Regions from separate parts of the Homo sapiens genome. Here region 2 is linked to region 1. A link means that fine-mapping ties the variant in region 1 to the plasma level of a protein whose gene starts in the linked region. Region 1 holds a variant in brackets. A gene starts in the other region. All regions are shown on their reverse strands.

Region 1 (2,906 bases):
CCCGCCTCGGCTTCCTAAAGTGCTGGGATTACAGGACTGGCCACTGCGGGAGCTGCGGCAGCTGCGGCCTCTGGGTACGGGGTCAGCGGGCAGTCCTGTAATGGCCACATTACAGGACAGGCCATCGCGCCTGGCCACATGCCTTAATTTTCAAAGTCAAATTTGTCTTTAAAAAGAATGAATTCCTACCCTTTGGGGGTATTTATTTTTGCAACTAACTTCCATCCTTTTATTAAGTAATCAAACATAGCCCATTTGAATGTTGGAAAAGAACTGTCAGAAATACAAGTTCTTATTTTGTACTTTGGTAACATGAATTTTACACTTAGTTGAACATGAAGAATCAAAAAAGCTCTGGATTGTTGTAATAATTGTTTAGAATTTTAGATGTACCATTTGACCTTTGACTTTAAGATGAATTTCAGTGTCCTCAGTAAATAAAGGCTTACCCCCAACCTTAAATAGTGACGCACAAAGGCTATTATTACCACCACTGAGTGGCTTAAATAATCCTGTCAACAGCAATCGCCCATTTCCAAAGCCATGGTGAAACATCTCTGTGCTAATTTCTTTTGTTTTGTTTCCTAATTTTTTTTTTTTGGCAGGTGGTGGGAAATAATCTTTGTCTTCTTTGGAGTAAACCTTCAACACCGGATTTTTTCTTTTAATTATGGATGTAAACCCCAATATCCCCATAATTTACATTGGGTCTCGACCAATTGCCTAATTATAAGAGGATATATTTAGGCTCTTATTTCATCCACACAAAAACTTGTGTAACAGGTAGTTGGAAACATCTGAGGCACCACTTTGATTCTGTTTTGGATGGTCATGTTTTTTCTCCTCCGTTTCCCCAGCATGTCTGCCACCATCCTCATGCACTGCTTCCAAGTGCCTGGGAGCCTTTATGAGCGTCCCTAAACCTAAAAGAATCCAGAGGCGGGGCTCGGATGAACCCTCGAGATAAGCAAGTGAGCCGCTTCTCCCCTCTAAAGGATGTTTACACGTGGGTGGCACTCGCTGGAATCCAGCGCTCGGGCAGCCCTGGGAGGACGCGCTCAGCTGCGAGGAGGTGACCGGCGGCGGCGCGGGCAGTCCGGAGGGGCGGGACGGGGCGGGGCAAGGCGGGGGCCGGGCCGGAGGAGGCGGGCTCCCGGGATCCGCGGTGTCCGGCAGTAGAGCTCGCTGCAGATCCGGGCTCTGACCA[T/C]GATTTGGCGCCGCGCGGCGCTGGCGGGGACGCGGCTGGTTTGGAGCAGGAGCGGCTCGGCAGGCTGGCTTGACAGGGCGGCGGGAGCTGCGGGAGCTGCGGCAGCTGCGGCCTCTGGGTACGGGGTCAGCGGGCAGGAGTGCCGCGGCGTGGTGCGCAGGCCTTGCGGGGGTCTGGAGAAAGCGGTGGGCGGAGGTGCCCCTTTGCCCCGGCGCCGGGTGGGCGAGGCGTACTAGCGCGTGGGCTCTGAGTCATAACACGCAGAGGCGCTCGAGGGATGGGCAGGGAAGGGTGCCCTCCGCGGCTGTGCTGACTTCAGGAGCCTGTGACTCTCGCGTTGAAAATACTTCACTCATGTTCACTTAGGCCATCCCTCTGTGAATTGCTACATAAAATACAAGACGCCGCAATCAATTGGAATTTCTCTGAAAGAGCGAATGATTCTTAGTCCAAGTGTGTCCCAAATACTGCAGTGGACATAGGAAAAACGGAACAGTTTTCTGGTGTTTGGTTACAATTCTAATTTGACCGGGCGTCCTGCATTCTTGTTTGCTAAACTTAGCCACCCTACTGCAGGAAGTGAAGGCGATGATTCCCGCTGAATGGCCAGAGCTTTTAGGATAGAGGCTGACTGATGGTGATGCCGCCTGCGGCTAGACCGAGGATAGTGCTTTCCTTACACTTCCTCGTTTGGAATATCAGCGGCTTCGGGACCTGCAGTGGAAGGGAACTGCGGCTGTGCTGCCCACGCCCGCGCGGCTGGTGCCTGGCGGTCCTGCCGGCTCGCACTTCCGCGCCTGCCACTGCGCACTTGGCCGGAGAGTCTGTCTCGCTATCTACTTGATCTGGGAGCTTCTATCAGTTTTGCAAGATTCTAGGAATCTCAAGTTTAACTTTCCAGACCAAGCTAGAGACCCCTCCTGAAGGGCTAATCACAGGCTGTTAAGTGTTTGACAGCTCTTTGAGGCCCCGCCGTGTTTTTTTCTGCGTATCCCTGGGGTCAATATAGCACTTTGCCTACTTAGCACACAGTAGGCGCTCCATAAATGTGGCATGACTAGGTGCTTCATCTGTGTTGAAATGAAATGTTTATTGTGCACTTACTTCCTCCGTGCATGTTTCTATTCATAGTTCGCGACAGTTTTTACCAAGGTCAACTAGAAATTGAAGGGAAAGGGTGTCTTCCAGAAACTTTTATTTGGGTAATATTTCAGAATGCACCTCCTACCTCCTCTCACTACCCAAGAAAACATTCTCTTGTGTTCTATTGGAGCTCCTTCAGTAGTAAATGCTGTAGTAGATGGTTTGGGTATGACAGTTTAAGTGCTGGACCTGAGATGAAAGGACTTGCTTTCTTAGTTGATAAACCAAATACAGCTTGCTGATTTATTCCACCAATGCTCTTCCTTAGGGCTAGGCCAGTGCTGCCTAACCTTTTCTGGTTTAGGCTTCAGGAACTCAACTTTCTTTTATCTTAAAGCTTCACCCTCCTCTCAGGTTGGCTGCAGTCTCCCTAGCTCGCTACCCTTAACTCCTTCCTGAGTTAAGCGCACAGGACTTTTTTTTTTGTTTTAAAGTGTTCCTTGCTAATACTATTAGGAAGCAAGGAATAATAGATTGTAAACATTGGGTAGGTTATAATGTTATAATGTTTAATTCCTGTCTCTTACTCTTCTTTGTTATAACTGAACAAACTGAT
Region 2 (2,906 bases), not on the chromosome of region 1:
GGAGTCCAGACAAGCCTGGGGAACATGGCAAAATCCCGTCTCTATCAAAAATACAAAAAATTAGCCAGGCCAAGTGGCACGCGCCTGTGGTCCTGTACTTGGGAGGCTGAGATGGGAGGCTCTCTTGAGTCTGGGAGGTGGACATTACAATGAGCTGAGATCATGCCACTGCACTCTAACCTGGGTGATAGAGTGAGACTCCATCTCAAAAACAAATAAAATAAAAATTCAAGGCAGGAATAAAACAGTAACTACATAATGAGCTCACATTTTAATAAAAGAGATATAACAAATGAACAAAAGTCCATTAAAATGTTAGGGAAAAAACCCAATAGGATGAGTTACTAACTAGAAGGGGAGAAGGGATTTGGAGTGGTTAGGAGAGCCCTTTCTGAGAAGATAAGCTGAGACCTGTGCCAAGAGGGAGGCAGCCATGCAAATACTGAGAGGAAGGAAAAAAACGAAGGGCCAGTGCAGAGATCTAGAGAGGAAAAGAACTTGTCTTGCTGGAGAAGCAGTCAAGGTAGCCAAGGAGAGTACTGAGAAGAGTACGTTGGAGTGAGTAGGTAGGGACTCTATGGAGTAGGGCCTTAAAGGCGATGATTAGGCCAGGCGCGGTGGCTCACACCTGTAATCCCAGCACTTTGGGAGGCCGAGGCGGGTGGATCACGGTCAGGAGTTCAAGACCAACCTGGCCAAGATGGTGAAACCACGTCTCTACTAAAAATACAAAAAAAATAAGCCGGGCCTGGTGGCAGTCGCCTGTAATCCCAGCTACTCGGGAGGCTGAGGCAGAGAATTGCTTGAACACGGGAGGCGGAGGTTGCAGTGAGCCGAGATCGAGCCACTGCACTCCAGCCTAGGCAACACAGCGAGACTCCGTCTCAAAAAAAAAAAAACAAAACAAACAAACAAAAAAAAAAACAAAGGCAGTGATTAGCAGTTCGGGTTTTGTTTCCACTTACACTAGCGAGAGCATCAGTAATGAACAAGGGGAAGAGTGAAGCCACTGACTCGCGAGGTGACTGTGGGCAAGTTCCTGAATCTTGCTAACACTCTTTAACCCCCTGGAAAACTGTTCGCTAATCGTCACATTAAACGGCTGCGAACGGGCCACGGTCAAGGCTTCGGGGCTGCAGCCGCGAGTTTACCTGTCCTCCAGGACCGATTCCATGGGCTCCACCCCGTCTGTGTCCACGGCGCGTAGCCGGTCGGCGAAGGCGATAGCTTTCTCCAGTCGCGCCACTGCCTCGCGGCTGCCGAAGTCCACAAGCGCTAGACGCTCCAGGTGCTCGATCACCGCAGCCGTGATCCGGCCACTGCCCTGGAGGAGGGATGAGGCGGGGAGTGTGGGTCACCGGCGCTCCGAAGTGCCTCCCGGCTTGCTCCGCCACCCGCCTAGATGGCCCTGGCCTTTACCTGAGGATCCGCCTTGGAGGTGAAGCCCTGGCGCCCGCCCAGAGGGGCCCGAAGGCCCAGCCACACCAACCGCGACCACATTTCTTCCTTCCTTGGCCCCCGCAGTGCGCCCGCGCGTAACGCCGAGCGACGCGCCTGAGAGTGATGACATCAGAGTGCGCCGTCGTCGCCGCCGCCACCACTGTCGCCATGAACAGTGTGGGGGAGGCATGCACGGACATGAAGCGCGAGTACGACCAGTGCTTCAATCGCTGGTTCGCCGAGAAATTTCTCAAGGGGGACAGCTCCGGGGACCCGTGCACCGACCTCTTCAAGCGCTACCAGCAGTGTGTTCAGGTGAGCCCTCCCGCCTCTGTTCCCAGGCCCTGCATTCTCGGCGCTGTGTCCCACCACACTCATCGTATTTTACGGGGATTGGGACTGGACTGGAAGGGTGGAGAAAAGTCGCAGTGAGGCCAGTGGCAGGAGCTCGCTCCCCTACCATCACCACCGAGGCCACTTGGGTGTCTCTCCGAATGACAAATATTGGGGCAGTGCTTTTCAAGAAGCACAGTCACATCCTTTGGTTCATTTGGTGTTCACCCTAAACTCGCAAGGTGGGCATAGTTACTCATATTTTATACATAAAAAACTAACACCCAGAAATAGGAAGTGATTAATCCGAGTTCACTAGCATCAGGTTTCCTTGGTTCTTTCGCAGGTGGTGCACTTTTCCACTATTACTGCTGGGGTCTGGGCGGGATTATACTTCAGAATTCAGACTGGAGGGTCACATTTTTTTGTTGTTATAAACCCTTCGTTAGCCTGTTTCTCTCTCTTGACCAGTCCCCGCAACTGCAGCCAGGAAATGTTTATTCTGGCCCAATGGATGTGGAACTGCTTTGAATTGTTAAGAACAGCACCGGGCAAAGCACTTCCAATAAGTTAACCCAACACATCCTCACAGCAATTCCCCGAGGTAGTTGCTGTCTTCATCCCATTTACAGTTAGTCACATAGCCAGTAAGTCCTGGAACCCAGATTTGAACCTAAGTCTTTCACTAACACAAAGTGATGATTATTTTTCAAATTTCACTTAATTTTAACGGTTCCCTCACAACTCCTTTTCCAGTCTCCCTCAGGTCTTACACTTGATTTATTCATTATGGTACTTCTGGTTTTTATTTATTTTTGAGGCAGAGTCTCACTCTGTCTCCCAGCCTGGAGTGCAATGGCACAATCTCAGCTCACTGCAACCTCCGCCTCCCAGGTTCAAGCTATTCTCATGCCTCAGCCACCCGAGTAGCTGGGCTTACAGGCATGCGCCACCATGCCCAGCTAATTTTTGTATTTTTAGTATAAACAGGGTCTCGCCATGTTGGCCAGGTTGGTCTCTAACTTCTGGCCTCAAGTGATCCACCTGCCTTGGTCTCCCAAAATGCTGCGATTATAGGCGTGAGCCACCACACCTGACCGGTACTTGTTTTTTAAAAAGTATGTGGTTTGAAT

Alleles and levels. Positions count from the first base shown, and alleles are read on the strand shown. Strength reflects both the effect of a copy and how common the allele is.
For the plasma level of the protein whose gene starts at base 1,597 in region 2, T is the high allele of the variant in region 1 and C is the other (moderate association).

Evidence for each region. PIP is the chance, under the fine-mapping model, that this variant and not a neighbour inherited with it causes the effect. The UK Biobank Pharma Proteomics Project read protein levels with antibody pairs (Olink). The fine-mapping took linkage between variants from a reference panel, not from the people measured, so its PIPs are less certain.
Region 2: TRIAP1 starts here. The variant in region 1 is fine-mapped to the plasma level of the TRIAP1 protein (UK Biobank, PIP above 0.99).

The regions. Positions count from the first base shown.
Region 1 is chr1:193,103,683-193,106,588 of GRCh38, reverse strand. GLRX2 (glutaredoxin 2) reads left to right here and starts at 1,175. Exons shown (of 4, transcript NM_197962.3): 1 at 1,175-1,325. The coding sequence starts at 1,207. RefSeq lists silencers at 997-1,236, 1,016-1,310, 1,287-1,386. The variant T/C (reference allele first, on the strand shown) is at 1,208.
Region 2 is chr12:120,445,075-120,447,980 of GRCh38, reverse strand. It overlaps TRIAP1 (TP53 regulated inhibitor of apoptosis 1), which reads left to right and starts at 1,597. Exons shown (of 2, transcript NM_016399.3): 1 at 1,597-1,755. The coding sequence starts at 1,609. GATC (glutamyl-tRNA amidotransferase subunit C) reads right to left here and starts at 1,537. Exons shown (of 4, transcript NM_176818.3): 1 at 1,420-1,537; 2 at 1,152-1,324. The coding sequence starts at 1,500. RefSeq lists enhancers at 722-1,567, 1,401-1,695, 1,293-1,842, 1,057-2,256, 1,568-2,415.